Homo sapiens: one gene and its partners. The protein of the gene in region 1 purifies or fractionates together with the protein of each later gene. This does not show direct contact. Each region holds a gene or a part of one and is shown in the gene's direction. Other genes may lie near its edges.

Region 1 (4,258 bases):
AGGCCTGGTGGTGACAAAATCTCTCAGCATTTGCTTGTCTGTAAAGGATTTTATTTCTCTTTCACTTATGAAGCTTAGTTTGGCTGGATATGAAATTCTGGATTGAAAATTCTTTCCTTTAGGAATGTTGAGTTTTGGTCCCCACTGTCTTCTGGTTTGTTGGGTCTCTAAAGAGAGGTCTGCTGTTAGTCTGATGAACTTCTTTTCGTGTGTAACAGGACCTTTCTCTCTGGCTGCCCTTAACATTTTTCCTTCATTTCAACGTTGGTGAATCTGATGATTATGTGTCTTGGAGTTGCTTTTCTCGAGGAGTATCTTTATGGTGTTCTCTGTGTTTCCTGAATTTGAATGTTGGCCTGTCTTGCTAGGCTGGGGAAGTTCTCCTGAATAATATCCTGAAGAGGGTTTTTGGCATTTTTTAAAAAATTATACTTTAAGAGATCTGGGATACATGTACTGTCGTATACTTTTAAACAATCAAATCTCATGAGAAATCACTCACAATTGGGAGGGCAGTGCCAAGCCATTCATGAGGGATCCATGCCCATGACCCAAACACCTCCCACCATGCTTCATCTCCAACACTGGGGATTATATTTGACCATGATATATGGAGGGGACAAACATACAAACTACGTCAAAGGCAAAGCATGGCTACTGTGAAAGAAGGGTAAAAACACAGAGATGGCATCACCTCTGACTTCCAGGAGTCCTCAGCAGACTGAGGGAGACAAGTACATATTTTCCTGAAAGAGGTCACTGGAGTGATGGTGTGTTTAGAATATAGAAGTAGAGCAGTCACAGAGAGGCAGCCCAGCAGAGTGTTCGCACAAGGACTGGGCCAGCAACTCCCCACTGCATGCAACGTATCTGAGGAAAGTCATTAAAATAGGTGATGGTCACTTTCCATCAAGTCCCTGGTATGGTCCATGGAGGCAGGGTTGTCAATCTCATTTTGGCATTTCAGAGGCCTCTCAGGGTTTGGATATGGAAGAAGACAACCAGCAATGATTATGCATTGCAGAGATGCAGGTGAGCCCCAGTTTCTTGCCAGTTGGGAGGTCAGTGCTAAGAGCCTTGCTGTCTTTCCCTGGAACATGAGATGCCAATTTCTTTCTGGACAGAGAGTATTTGGTTGGCTAAAGTCAAAATCTAAATTTTGCTTTGGGATAAATTCCAAAAATATTAGCATTATTCAAATTTACTTTCACTTTATCTTTCCGAATCTTCAAGGTCCAAAAGCATTGCTGAATAATTCTGTTTCTAAACTCACTTGCAGCGTGCTCTCCCTCCAAGGCGAAGACCATAATCTACTCTTGTCTGGAAATCATACAAGTAGGTATCTCAGCAAATGATACTCGTGTGTTATCGTTCTTATGAGTAAATCATTGGCAGTGAGTGTGATTTTTTTTTTTTTATGAAAGGATAAATACACGCCCTCTATTGGGGTCAGGTTTTGTGCCTGTACTTCTTCCGCCTACTGTATCATAGCAGCTTAGAATCCCAGCTGCTGGCTCGGGCTGCAGTTCTCTCATGGCTCGCGCAGGGTGGACCAGCCCCGTTCCTTTATGTGTGTGTCTACTGCTGACCTGTGGCTTTGCCGAGGCAGGGAAGCTGCTGGTAGTGCCCATGGATGGGAGTCACTGGTTCACCATGCAGTCGGTGGTGGAGAAACTTATCCTCAGGGGGCATGAGGTGGTTGTAGTCATGCCAGAGGTGAGTTGGCAACTGGAAAGATCACTGAATTGCACAGTGAAGACTTACTCAACCTCGTACACTCTGGAAGATCAGAACCGGGAATTCATGGTTTTCGCCCATGCTCAATGGAAAGCACAGGCACAAAGTATATTTTCTCTATTAATGAGTTCATCCAGTGGTTTTCTTGACTTATTTTTTTCGCATTGCAGGAGTTTGTTTAATGACCGAAAATTAGTAGAATACTTAAAGGAGAGTTCTTTTGATGCAGTGTTTCTGGATCCTTTTGATACCTGTGGCTTAATTGTTGCTAAATATTTCTCCCTCCCCTCTGTGGTCTTCACCAGGGGAATATTTTGCCACCATCTTGAAGAAGGTGCACAGTGCCCTGCTCCTCTTTCCTATGTCCCCAATGATCTCTTAGGGTTCTCAGATGCCATGACTTTCAAGGAGAGAGTATGGAACCACATCGTGCACTTGGAGGACCATTTATTTTGCCAGTATCTTTTTAGAAATGCCCTAGAAATAGCCTCTGAAATTCTCCAAACCCCTGTCACGGCATATGATCTCTACAGTCACACATCAATTTGGTTGTTGCGAACGGACTTTGTTTTGGACTATCCCAAACCCGTGATGCCCAACATGATCTTCATTGGTGGTATCAACTGTCATCAGGGAAAGCCATTGCCTATGGTAAGTCACCTCTCCTTTAGCACATTAAGAATAATCTGGCTTTGGAAATTAAAAAAGGATTCCTTACTGAACTGTGATTTGACATTTTCGTTTGTTGCATTTCAAATTTCTTTCCAGTTTAACAAATTATTTTGTGCGAATTCATGTACTCATCAATTATCAAATTTTATAAAACTGCCCTTCTTGAAAGTATATGTAATAATTTAAAAATTATAGATCATATTCAGGCTACATTTTAAAATACGATGTTTAGAAAAGTACCAAAAACCACAGCAAGAAATGAAACTTCCGTTTTTTGTTAATTCTATGTGACCCCGTAGTTGAAATGCTCTTAAGTTTTGTGTACATTCTTTTCATTGAAAAAAAGTATTTTAGGCATATGCAATATCTCATGTAAGTTCCCATACCTATTTAGTAAAAATAAAATCTAGTATTGGGCTGAACATATTCTTCTTTATCTTGCATTTTTCACTTGCCAATAAATTATGGGTACCTTTATAGAGCAATACAGACAGATTTGACAAGTTCTTTTAATAATTGCATAAAATTCTTTACTTTGGATACAATGTAGTTTTTTAACCAATTAATATTGATATATATATAGCCATTTTCCACTCTTTCCTTTTGTGAATAAGGCTGTGTAAACACTCTTCAATACTTTCCTTGCGTGAATATATTTCTATATTCTTGCTTTTATCTTAGTAGACTAGAGTCCTACACGTAGGGTTACAGGGTTTTCCTGAATTGAGAAGACTGGCATCTTTTTGCTATTAAGTCTTCCTGTTCAGGAACATATATGTCTCACTATTTATTCAGATCTTGTTTTATATACATAAATAAAAATTTTCACTATATAAGCATTTTATGTTTGTTTTTAACATTTATTCCTTGGCATTTTATTACTTTAGAAACTATTTTGTACAGGGCAATGTTTCCATTTCTACATTTAACTGATTACTGGTAATTAAAATTTTGGTTTTTGCATATGTATCTTGTATCCAGCCACATCACTAACTTTTCTTATTATTTTGTAGTATGCATTAGATGTACAATATACAATACCATCTGCAAGTAATTCCCTTGTCTGATATTTGTACTGCTTCTTTTGCTTTGCTGGAGCATATACTTCCAAAATATTATTGAGTAATATTGTTAGAGTAGCCAGTTTAAATAGGGATTCGGTTGCTTGTGACTGAAAAATCCTTGAAAAATACCAGAATAAGATTCTTGGCAAACGCATAGTTGCTAAATCCAGATGAAACACCTGGTGTCTCATCTCATTATATTATTTTATTAGGGGTGGAGTACACATTTTTATGTATTGTTCTGGTTTCTTACAAGATTCAGTAGACTTTGTAACACAGTTATATCTGTCATTGGCAGATGGTTGGTGAAAGAGTGACCGTTCAGCCATCTCATAGGAAAGTGAAATAATGCTCTTTCTAAAAAGCAGGAAGACTACAGTTGTAGGCCTTTCAAAATTAGGCATGACTTTCAGCTCATGGCAAGACCAGGCGAGGAGATGCAAGTTGCAGGACTCTAAGAGGTTGGACTTATCAAAGCACTTTTCTCCTCGTTATCCTCCATTAATTACAGTACCAAGCACCACCCATGTGTTGCCTACACCCCACAGCCTTCGGCCGAGTTGAGGATCTGCCACTTCCTGAACCCACGCTGAGTTTATTGTGGCTCACAGGGTCACCTAGAGGCCTTTAAAGATATAAAAACCTATATATGATTTTATATCACCTGTGATAGAGGGATATCTATAAAAAATGAAACATTAAACTATATATGGTTTCATTTATTTTGATTGTAAATATCTTTTATGAGATATGAAATAAATGTGTTTCTATATCTATTAAAGAAT
Region 2 (4,260 bases), on another chromosome or scaffold:
ATTAAAATTACATAAAGCCAGAAATGTAACTCCTCTGTCTCACTTGTTATATCTCCAAGGCTGGATAGCCACATGTGACTGGTGGTGGCTGGATTAGCTAGTGCATATAAAACATCACTGCAGAAAGTTCAGCTGAGCAGCACTGAGTTAGATGGCCTCTGAAGAGGATGTCCCACGGAGAGAATCCAGAACTCAGGATCTTTTTTTTTTTTTTTCTTTGCGACAGAGTCTTGCTCTGTCACCCAGGCTGGAGTGCAGTGGCGTGATCTCGGCTCACTGCAACTTCTGCCTCCCAGGTTCAAGCAATTCTCCTGCCTCAGCCTCCCTAGTAGCTGGGACTACAGGCCTGTGCCAACATCCCCAGCTAATTTTTGTGTCTTTTTAGTAGAGATGGGGTTTCACTATGTTGGCCAGGCTGGTCTCGAACTCCTGACCTCGTGATCCGCCCCCCCTTGGCCTCCCAAAGTGCTGGGATTACAGGCGTGAGCCACCGCGCCCGGCCAGCTCAGGATCTTTTGGGATGGTCTGTTCACCTCGCAGAAGTGGCTGGCATGAGCAATAGGAGCCCAGAGTGGAACCAGGGCCTTCTGGTTGTCAAGTGGACTTGCTGTGTGACCTCCTGTGAGTCTCTGCCCTCTCTGAGCCTCTCACTCCTCACCTGAGATGAGGGAGTTGGCTGAGGTGATGCCGATGCCCCTCACAGCTTTGACCTCCTATGATTCAGGGGCCTGTGTGTCACCTGGTGGCACACAGATGGCAGGGAGGGTGTGAGATGGCCACACATGGGTATGAGGCAGAGCCACAGCCCCCCCCAACACGCACATGGGCTAGTCACTGGGACACACACAGAGCTCACTCACGGCCACAGAGTGGGCGTGGGTTTCCCTTTTTCCTTGTTTCTGTTTCTCTTAGCCTCGGCGCCTCCCTCCCTCCCTCTCTCTCTCTCTCTCTCTCTCTCTCTCTCTCTCTCTGGCTCTTTTAGCCTTGGTTTGTTACAATCTCCCTTTTCAAGCCAGCCTCTGTCCCTCCTACTCAACCTGCTTTATCTCTAGGCCTTCCTCCTTCCTCTTCCACAGTCTGGCTTCTCACATTGTCACTCTAGGTATGCACTTCCCATTGATTTCCTCTTGCTCAGTGGCCTCTCATCCTGCCACCCCTAGCCTTGCTGGGGACGTGAACCCTCTCCCCGCGCCTGGGAAGCCTTCTTGGCACCGGGACCCGGAGAATCCCCACGGAAGCCAGTTCCAAAAGGGATGAAAAGGGGGCGTTTCGGGCACTGGGAGAAGCCTGTATTCCAGGGCCCCTCCCAGAGCAGGAATCTGGGACCCAGGAGTGCCAGCCTCACCCACGGTACAATTAGACAGAGGGAAAGGGAGGGAGCCCGGGGGTGGGGGTAGGGGAGGGTGGAGAAGCTTCCGGACTCCTTGGGGTTAAAAGGGAAGGTCCCGCCAGGGGTCCCTGGGCAGAGGATACCAGCGGCAGACCACAGGCAGGGCAGAGGCACGTCTGGGTCCCCTCCCTCCTTCCTATCGGCGACTCCCAGGTGAAGCTACCTGCACCCCACCCGGGTTGGGGTGGATTGCGAGAGGATGGGTGGGGACCCCCGGGCCACAGGCAGGAGCCGGCTTAGAGCCTCGGTTTCTCCACCTGCGGGACGCGGAAGTCCCCCCGCTGTGAGGTTGAGAAAGAGGCTCCCACTGGCTCCGAGCCTCGGATCCCCACCCCGCGCGTGAAGGAGGGGGAAACCTCGGGCGCGGCGTGGCTGCAGCCAGGGTAGCTGGGGCGCGGAGAGCGCTCCACTCGGGCACAGGGAGGACGGGAAGATGCCGCGAGGGGCGTCATTAGGGTAATTGTGCCCATTACCGCTGTTCCAGCCCGAATCTCCCGTCTGCCAGCCCCTGGGGTTATCGGCTGCAGGTCAAAAGGGTGCTTGCGGGCTGGGGTGGCCCAGGCTGGGCGGATGAGCGCGGCGAGGTGGGGGTCTCTAACGGAGCATCTGTTTTAACCCGCCCCTGCACACACCCCAGCAGATCCTGGCCATGAGAGCTCCGCACCTCCACCTCTCCGCCGCCTCTGGCGCCCGGGCTCTGGCGAAGCTGCTGCCGCTGCTGATGGCGCAACTCTGGGGTAAGGTCGGGGGCAGGGGGCGGGGAGAGGCGCCGGTGGGAGGCACGGGCGGGAGGAGAATGTGTTCCCGTCACCAAGCCCCGCGCACCTCTCCTCCCCCGAGACCCCAGCACCCACCCAGCGCTCCGGAGCACGGCCCGCCCCCAAGTCAGCTGGGCCCTTCTTCTGGCTCGGCCCCTGGGTGACCCGCCCCACTCAGGCCCTGTCCGATTTCTGCCACCCGGATCCTCGCTCTTCCGTGGACTCTTCGCCGCGTTCTTTCTCCTCCTCTTACGCCGCCCCATCCCGGCCCCGCTCCATTTTACACTACCGTGTTTTGTTTTGTTTGTTTGTTTGTTTGAGACGGAGTCTCGCTCTGTCGCCCAGGCTGGAGTGCAGTGACGCGATCTCGGCTCACTGCAAGCTCCGCCTCCCGGGTTCACACCATTCTCCTGCCTCAGCCTCCCGAGTAGCTGGGACTACAGGCGCCCGCCACCAAGCCCGGCTAGTTTTTTGTATTTTTAGTAGAGATGGGATTTCACCGTGGTCTCGATCTCCTGGCCTCGTGATCCGCCTGCCTCGGCCTCCCAAAGTGCTGGGATTACAAGCGTGAGCCACCGCTCCCGGCCACACCACCGTGTTTTATCCTGAGTCTTGCCTTACCGCTTTTTGCCCTCTCCCCTCACTTTTTTTCTTCCTCTTTCCCTTTCTCTCTCTTTTTTCTTTTTCTTTCTTTCTTTTCTTTCTTTCGTTCTTCTTTTCCTTCCTTCCTTTCCTTCCTTCCTTTCGTTTGTTTCTTCTTTCTTGTTTTACTTTCTCTCTTATTTTTTCTTCTTTCTTTCTTGTTTTTTTCTTTCTCTCTCTTTTTCTTTCCTTCTTTTTTTTTTTTTTTTTTTTTTGAGACAGGGCAGTGCTCTGTCTCCGTGGCTGGAGTACAGTGGCCCAATCAGAGCTCACTGCAGCCTCGACCTCCTGGGCTCAAGCGATACTCAGCCTCCAGAGTAGCTGGTACCACAGGCATGCACCACCACATCCGGCTTTTTTTTTTTTTTTTTTTTTTTTTGAGACAGGGTCTCACTCTGTCGCCCAGACTGGAGTGCAGTGGCCCAATCTCGGCTCATTGCAACCTCCACCTCCTGGGCTCAAGCGATCCTCCCACCTCAGCCTCCCAGGTAGCTGTGACTACAGGCGCATGCCTCCGCGACTACTTTTTTGTTGTTGTTGTTGTTGTTTGTTTGTTTTTGTAGAGACTGGGTCTTGCTGTGTTGCCCGGGCTGGTCTTGAATTCCCGAGCTCAAGCGGTCCAACCGCCTCGGCTTCCCAAAGTGCTGGGATTACAGGCGTAAACCACTGCGCCCCACCCCTCTCCTGGTTTTCAATCCCGTTTTGTTATTCACACCCCTTCCTCTCCCCGATCCCCGAGTTCTATCCCCGCACCCTTACCTCCCCGCCGCGTTCAATCCCCGCCCCTCTATCGACCAGCGACGTTCTAGCCAGCTCTCCAGGCGCGCTGCGTTCAGTCCCTGCCCTCCAGACCCACCCTATTCTGTCTCATTACTCCACGCTACCCTATCCCAGCTTCCTTCCACTTTCACGCGCTTCTTCTCCTCCCATTCCCTTCGGTGCACGCGAAACCCCCAATATTTCCCTACCACCCTCGCGTTCTGGCTGCGTCCCCCGTCCCCGAACGCAGTCCAGTGCCACAGCCCAGCTCCAACCCCAAACCCAGACCCTGCCCTCCGTGCTTTGATTCCGTCCCCTTTCTTTCTCCAGCCGCAGAGGCGGCGCTGCTCCCCCAAAACGACACGCGCTTGGACCCCGAAGCCTATGGCTCCCCGTGCGCGCGCGGCTCGCAGCCCTGGCAGGTCTCGCTCTTCAACGGCCTCTCGTTCCACTGCGCGGGTGTCCTGGTGGACCAGAGTTGGGTGCTGACGGCCGCGCACTGCGGAAACAAGTAGGAGGAGATCCATCCCCGAGGACGCCACGGGGGGCTGTGGAGGCGGCCTCCAGGGAGGAGCGGGCAGGGCGGGGTCTCTCGGAACTCCCACAGCTGGAGGTGCGGTCCCCGGTGTCCTTCCAGCAGGAGGAGAGACCGGGCTTGCGCTGTGGCCGCCAGGGGGCGGTGTGGTCCTTTTCCGCATTTCTGGGCCCGTC
Region 3 (3,500 bases), on another chromosome or scaffold:
AGAATACTCTTATAATTTCTTATGCCTGTCTTACTTTAATCTCTTAATCCTCTTATCTTCGTAAACTGAGGATGTACGTCACCTCAGGACCACTATAATTGTGTTAACTGTACAAATTGATTGTAAAACGTGTGTTTGAACAATATGAAATCAGTGCACCTTGAAAAAGAACAGAGTAACAGCGATTTTTAAGACAGCGATAAAGTCTGACTGCCTGTGGGGTCGGGCAAAAAGAGCCATATTTTTCTTCTTGCAGAGAGCCTATAAATGGACGTGCAAGTAGGAGAGGTATCACTAAATTCTTTTCCTAGCAAGGAACATTAATATTAAGACCCTAGGAAAAGAATTGCATTCCTCGGGGGAGGTCTATAAGCGGCCGCTCTGGGAGTGTCTGTCCTATGCGGTTGAGATAAGGACTGAGATACGCCCTGGTCTCCTCCAGTACCCCACCCTGGTGAATTTGAGGTCAGACTGGTTCTCTGCTCTCGAACCCTGTTTTCTGTTGTTTAAGATGTTTATCAAGACAGTAGGTGCACAGCTGAACATAGACCCTTACCAGTAGTTCTGTTTTGCCTTTTCTCCTGTTTCCCCAGAAGCATGTGATCTTTGTTCTCCTTTTTGCCCTTTGAAGTATGTGATCTTGTGAGTTACTCCCTGTTCTTGGACCCCCTCCCCTTTTGAAATTCTTAATAAAATTTGCTGGTTTTGTGGCTCAGGTGGGCATCATGGTCCTACCGATATGTGATGTCACCCCCGGTGGCCCAACTGTAAAATTCCTCTCTTTGTACTCTCTCTCTTATTTCTCAGACTGGTTGACATTTATGGAAAATAGAAAGAACCTACGTTGAAATATTGGGGATGGGTTCCCCCGATAGAATAGAAGCAGCAGTTTGTAGGAAGTTTCACTTGTCTTTCTTTTCTATTGGAGTTAAGTCTTTTTTAACTTAATTCTCTATAATAACAGCACCGTATCATAGAACTCATTTTATAAAGCAGTCAATGTCAGCATTGTGCCAAATACCTTTCTAATAAGAAATCTGTATATAAAAAGACTTGAATATTTCATTCATATGGTGTATATGTACCTATATACTTATACTCATATATATATATATATACACACACAACAATAATGTCTTTTCTTAATCAGCCAAGAAGCACTGCATTAATATATGTCCATAAACATACTTACTAAAACAAAAACACATATAATACCCTTTCAGAAGTTATAAATTACTGTTTATAACCTCTGTTCAGTAAGATTTTCAGAGTCGTAAGTTAATTTTATTTTTGGAGACGTTTTCTTGCACTGTCACCCAGGCTGGAGTGCAGTGGCACAATCATGGCTCACTGCAGCCTTGACCTTCTGGGCTCAAGCAATCCACCTGCCTCAGCCTCATGAGTAGCTGGGGAACTACAGGCACACACCACCATGCCTAGCCAATTTTTTAAAAGTTTGTGTAGGGATGGGGTCTCCCCGTGGTTGTCCAGGCTGGTCTCAAACTGCTGAACTCAAGTGATCTTCCTGCCTCAGCCTTCCAAAGTGCTGGGATTACAGGCATGAGCCATCATGCCCAGCCTAATGAATTTTTTGAAAAAATTGGGAATATCTTACTTGTGATTATTCTTTTTTTCTCTACTGTCATTTAAAAAATTTTGTCTGATTCTATTTCACTTCAAAATGTTATTTAAAATTTGTAATTTTTCCCTTTTATGAAATTGTTAGTTAAAAATTTTTTAGAAAATCTGTTTAATGACTGGGTTTTTCATACACTAGTAAGTATTTCCTTTTTATTAACTGTGATTTGTAAATTTTACACTTAGATTTAGAAAATTTTAGTTCAGGCCAGGTGTGTGGTGACTCATACCTGTAATCCTAGCAATGTGGGAGGCTGAGACAGGAGGATCGCTTGAGCCCAAGAGTTCAAGACCAGCCTGGTCAACATAGTGAGACCTTGTCTCTACAATAAATAAATAAATGATTTTTAAACAGAATTTTAGTTCACATACATAGAATGTTCCCTTCCTACATTCAGCATACATGTAATCTGTTCAAGTAATGAAAAACATATTTTAATTTCTTAAATAAAATTTCCTAAAGGTTCGTCTGACTAAACGTAATTGGCATGTACATGGTGATATATCCAAATGAATATTGCCGTTTATTCTAGCCATAGACCCTTATTGTACACATTTATATATGATGATATAATTAATGTCTTCACTTTCTTAATTTCACCAATATGTGATGAAATCAGTATTAATTATTCAATGTAATGAAATTTATGGATTTTAGTTTTCGTGTTGAATATATTGGAAAATACTGTTGATAACACTTACTAATTATCTTTTTTCAATAAATTGCAGCAAAACACTTACTATTTTGGAGTTTAAAGTATGTCATCATGGCAAAGTTTCGGAGAAGGACTTGCATCATTTTGGCACTTTTTATTCTATTTATTTTCTCTCTGATGATGGGTTTAAAAATGCTGAGACCAAATACAGCTACTTTTGGAGCTCCTTTTGGACTTGACCTTCTTCCAGAACTTCATCAACGAACTATTCATTTGGGGAAAAATTTTGATTTCCAAAAGAGTGACAGAATCAACAGTGAAACAAATACCAAGAATTTAAAAAGTGTTGAAATCACTATGAAACCTTCCAAAGCCTCTGAACTTAACTTGGATGAACTACCACCTCTGAACAATTATCTACATGTATTTTATTACAGTTGGTATGGAAATCCACAATTTGATGGTAAATATATACATTGGAATCATCCAGTGTTAGAGCATTGGGACCCTAGAATAGCCAAGAATTATCCACAAGGGAGACACAACCCTCCAGATGACATTGGCTCCAGCTTTTATCCTGAATTGGGAAGTTACAGTTCTCGGGATCCTTCTGTCATAGAAACTCACATGAGACAAATGCGCTCAGCTTCAATTGGTAATTATTGTATATATATATATGTGTGTTTGTGTCTGTATATATGCATATAAATGATTTTTTGTGTAACTTTACTAGTTAATTTTCTCATTATTATTAATTATATTGTTAAGCTCATACCTCCAAATTAAACTGTATGTATGATCTTAAACATCCAGGCAACCACATTTTAACACTGCCCTTAGTGTATATTGTTTAATTTTTACATTTTGGAGCATTTCTGGATATATTGTTGATTTCTAATTTAATTCACTTTCTCAATTTTATTAAATTATGATTTACATAAAATACAATGAATTTCCCACTTTAAGTTTATAGCTCATTGATGTTACTCAAAAGTATATACCTGTTTGAATACCACCCCAATCAAGAAGTAAAATATTTCTATAGCCCAAAAAGTCTCATCATAATTCCTTTATTCAGGCCTACCTTCTCCCCTACCGCTGAAAACTGTATACATATCAGCTGGATCTGATTTCTATCAGATCTGATTTCTATCACTGGAGAATAGTTGTGAGTGTTCTATTACTTTATGAAAATAGAGTCATTCA
Region 4 (3,500 bases), on another chromosome or scaffold:
TCCTGTTTCCTAAAGTTTTCGTATTCTCAATTTCATCAGCAGGCGGTGGTCATCCAGAGGCTTTTGAGTCATCAACTCCTTTACATCAAGCAGAGGATTCTCAGGTCCGCCAGTACTTCCCAGAGACCTGGCTCTGGGATCTGTTTCCTATTGGGTAAGTGATGACTCAAAAGTACAGTAAAGGGCCAGGTGCATGGCTCACGCCTGTAATCCCAACACTTTGGGAGGCTTAGGAGGGAGGATCACTTGAGACCAGGAGTTCAAGACCAGCCTGGGCAACATAATGAGCTTCTGTCTCTACAAAAGAAATTAAAAAAATAGCCAGATGGTAGTTGTGTCCTACTTGGAAGGCTGAGGTGGAAGGATCACTTGAGTCTGGGAGGTGGAGGCTGCAGTGAAGCAAGATCACATTGCTTCACTCCTGCTTGGGTGACAGAGCAAAACCCTTCTCAAAATCAACAACGACAACGACAACAACAAACCCAGAAAAAAAACAGTAAGATTCTGCAATGTAGAGCCTGTAGAAAACTCAGAATCAGACGCATTCCTAATGGATCTAAATCTTAAGCAAAGAAAGCTTGATGGGGTGTGGGAATTTATTTATTTTCCGGAATTCTTTTTTTCTTTTTATTTTTAAGACAGAGTCTTGCTCTGTCACCCAGGCTGGAGTGCAGTGGCATGATTTTGGCTCACTGTAGGCCTCAACCTCCTAGGTTCAAGCAATTCTTGTGCCTCAGCCTCCCAAGTAGCTGGGACTATAGGCACATGCCACCACACCTGGCTAAGTTTTGTATTTTTAGTAGAGGCAGGGTTTTGCTATGTTGGCCAGGCTAGTCTTGAACTCCTGGCCTCAAGTGATCCACCCGCCTTGGCCTCCCAAAGTGTTGGGATTACAGGTGTGAGCCACTGCGCCCGGCCTACCTGAATTCTTCATGCATTCATATACAACCACTCAAAACAAATCCACACAATTCCACACTCACACATTGCAGGCCCTGTGTTCTCACTACAGAACCACACACATTTAAAGGTATATATTGACATCAATTTTTGCTCACTGCTTGCATATCCATTTTGACAAGCCCTGAGACCACACATCCTCAGACTCAGAGGGCACCAGCCTCTCTGTCAGATGTGCTTGCACAGAGATGCCCACCCCGACTCCCCACCATAGTCCCCCTCCTCCGTATGAGTGCAGCCTCACTCACACTGAGACTCACCTGTTCAGTTGCCTCTTTACTTCTCCCCATACAATAACAATAACAATTTTACTTCTGCAGATGAATTTGTAGCTTTTTTTTTTTGGACAGGGTCTTGCCCTGTCACCCAGGCTGGAGTGCAGTGGTGCAATCATAGCTCACTGCAGCCTCAAACTCCTGGGCTCAAGCAATCCTCCTGCCTCAGCCTCCTAAGTAGCTGGGACTATAGGCATGCACCACCACACCTGGCTAATTTTTAAATTTTTGGTAGAAATAGGGTCTTGCTATGTTTCCCAGGCTGGCCTCAAACTGCTGGGCTGAAGCTATCTGCTCACCTCAGCCTCTCAAAGAGCTGGGATTACAAGTGTAAGCCAGCACACCCCACCGAATTTGTGGCTTAATTCACAAATGTTCTCCTTGCCCCACGCTACCTCTGCCTCATGTTGGTCCTTGTGTTTTCACAGTAACTCGGGGAAGGAGGCGGTCCACGTCACAGTTCCTGACGCCATCACCGAGTGGAAGGCGATGAGTTTCTGCACTTCCCAGTCAAGAGGCTTCGGGCTTTCACCCACTGTTGGACTAACTGCTTTCAAGCCGTTCTTTGTTGACCTGACTCTCCCTTACTCAGTAGTCCGTGGGGAATCCTTTCGTCTTACTGCCACCATCTTCAATTACCTAAAGGATTGCATCAGGGTGAGAGCTGGGGATACAGGAATCAGGTGTCAGCCCTGGAATCACACCTCCCCCATAAGTTTGTCTCTAAATTGGAAGCATCCCAATTTTCCCTGGGAAAGAGAGGAGATGTCGGCGTCTCAGCCCCCAGGTTTCCCCAGGCCTCTATGCACTACCTCCTTTGTTTGTACCCTTTGTCTCTTAAACATCCTCCGTAGGTTCAGACTGACCTGGCTAAATCGCATGAGTACCAGCTAGAATCATGGGCAGATTCTCAGACCTCCAGTTGTCTCTGTGCTGATGACGCAAAAACCCACCACTGGAACATCACAGCTGTCAAATTGGGTAAGAGAGGGAAGTGGTAGACGGGCGAGGAAAGCCAGCAGCAGAAGACCAGTGACTGAGCACTCAGTCTTTTCCTCTGCCACATCTGCTTTGCTTCCTCCTCCATTTTCCACTATTTTTCTCCCTCCTAAGGCTGTTATAAGTCAATACACAAACACTCTTTGATAGGTGACCAAACAAATTTGTTCAAACCGGAATATTTTGAGTGTGAAAGGGAGAGCTTTTAATATTTATAGCTGGACAAGGAATACATGGTCATGTAACTAATCAAGGACTTACTATAAGAGTCCCTGGGCCAGGCACTATTCTAACTGCTTTACATATATTAACTCATTAAATTGATTGACTAATTAATTTTTATTTTATTTATTTATTTTTGAGAGGAAGTCTCGCTCTGTTGCGCAGGCTGGAGTGCAGTGGTGCAATCTGTGCTTACTGCAACCTCCACCTCCTGGGTTCAAGTGATTCTCCTGCCAAGCCTCCCAAGTAGCTAGGATTACAGTCGCGTGCCACCCTACCCGGCTAATTTTTGTACTTTTAGTAGAGGTGGGGTTTTGCCATGTTGGCCAGGCTGGTCTCAAACTCCTGACCTCAGGTGACCTGCCTGCCTCGGCCTCCCAAAGTGCTGGGATTACAGGCGTGAGCCGCTGCGCCTGGCCTTTTATTTTTTTTTAGAGAGACAAGATCTTACTCTGTCACCTAAGCTGGAGTACAGTGGTGTGGTCATTGCTCACTGCAGCCTCAACCTCCCAGGCTCAAGCGATCCTCTCACCTAGGCCTCCGGAGTAGCTGGGACTATAGGCTCATGCCACCACCATGCCTGGCTAATTCAGTTGGCAGAGAAGCGGTCTTGCTCTGTTGCCCAGGCTGTTCTCAAACTCCTGGGTTCAAGTGATTCTCCCGCCTCACCCTTCCAAAGTACTGGGATTACAAGAATGAGTCACTGCACCTTTAACTTGTTTAATCCTCACCCCCAACCCTATGGGATGTCAGTCACTCATAGATTAAATCCTTGCAACTCAAAGTTTGATTTTCATATGTATGAGTTATCTCATGTTGCTTGACAAATTATTGTAAAACTTAAGTGTCATAAAAGGACAAACATTATCAAACAGATTCTATGGGTCATTAATCTGGGTGCAGCTTAGCTGGGTACCTCTGGCTCAAGGTATCTCATGAGGTTGCAATCAAGCTGTCAGTCAGGACTCTGGTTTCATCTGAAGACTCGACTAGGAGAGGATTGATTTTTCAAGCTCATCCCAAAGTCTCTGATCCTTACAGGCT

The links. Proteins that work in one complex are often made in the same cells at the same time.
Region 2: the proteins of UGT1A10 (region 1) and KLK10 purify together in Homo sapiens (affinity purification with mass spectrometry; 3 studies listed by BioGRID and IntAct, with this or other methods). This does not show direct contact.
Region 3: the proteins of UGT1A10 (region 1) and MANEA purify together in Homo sapiens (affinity purification with mass spectrometry; 2 studies listed by BioGRID and IntAct, with this or other methods). This does not show direct contact.
Region 4: the proteins of UGT1A10 (region 1) and A2ML1 purify together in Homo sapiens (affinity purification with mass spectrometry; 3 studies listed by BioGRID and IntAct, with this or other methods). This does not show direct contact.

What each region holds. Positions count from the first base shown.
Region 1 is NC_000002.12:233,634,990-233,639,247, forward strand, and holds the start of UGT1A10 (UDP-glucuronosyltransferase 1A10 precursor), read left to right. Parts: upstream 1-1,458; 5' UTR 1,459-1,533; coding exon 1,534-2,388; intron 2,389-4,258.
Region 2 is NC_000019.10:51,016,910-51,021,169, reverse strand, and holds the start of KLK10 (kallikrein-10 preproprotein), read left to right. Parts: upstream 1-1,460; 5' UTR 1,461-1,543; intron 1,544-1,798; exon of another isoform or gene 1,799-1,917; intron 1,918-2,027; exon of another isoform or gene 2,028-2,030; 5' UTR 2,031-2,039; coding exon 2,040-2,127; intron 2,128-3,879; coding exon 3,880-4,060; intron 4,061-4,260. UniProt on the Homo sapiens protein: Has a tumor-suppressor role for NES1 in breast and prostate cancer.
Region 3 is NC_000006.12:95,584,035-95,587,534, forward strand, and holds part of MANEA (glycoprotein endo-alpha-1,2-mannosidase), read left to right. Parts: intron 1-2,367; 5' UTR 2,368-2,405; coding exon 2,406-2,949; intron 2,950-3,500.
Region 4 is NC_000012.12:8,850,121-8,853,620, forward strand, and holds part of A2ML1 (alpha-2-macroglobulin-like protein 1 isoform 1 precursor), read left to right. Parts: intron 1-39; coding exon 40-154; intron 155-1,663; coding exon 1,664-1,892; intron 1,893-2,089; coding exon 2,090-2,216; intron 2,217-3,500. UniProt on the Homo sapiens protein: Is able to inhibit all four classes of proteinases by a unique 'trapping' mechanism. This protein has a peptide stretch, called the 'bait region' which contains specific cleavage sites for different proteinases.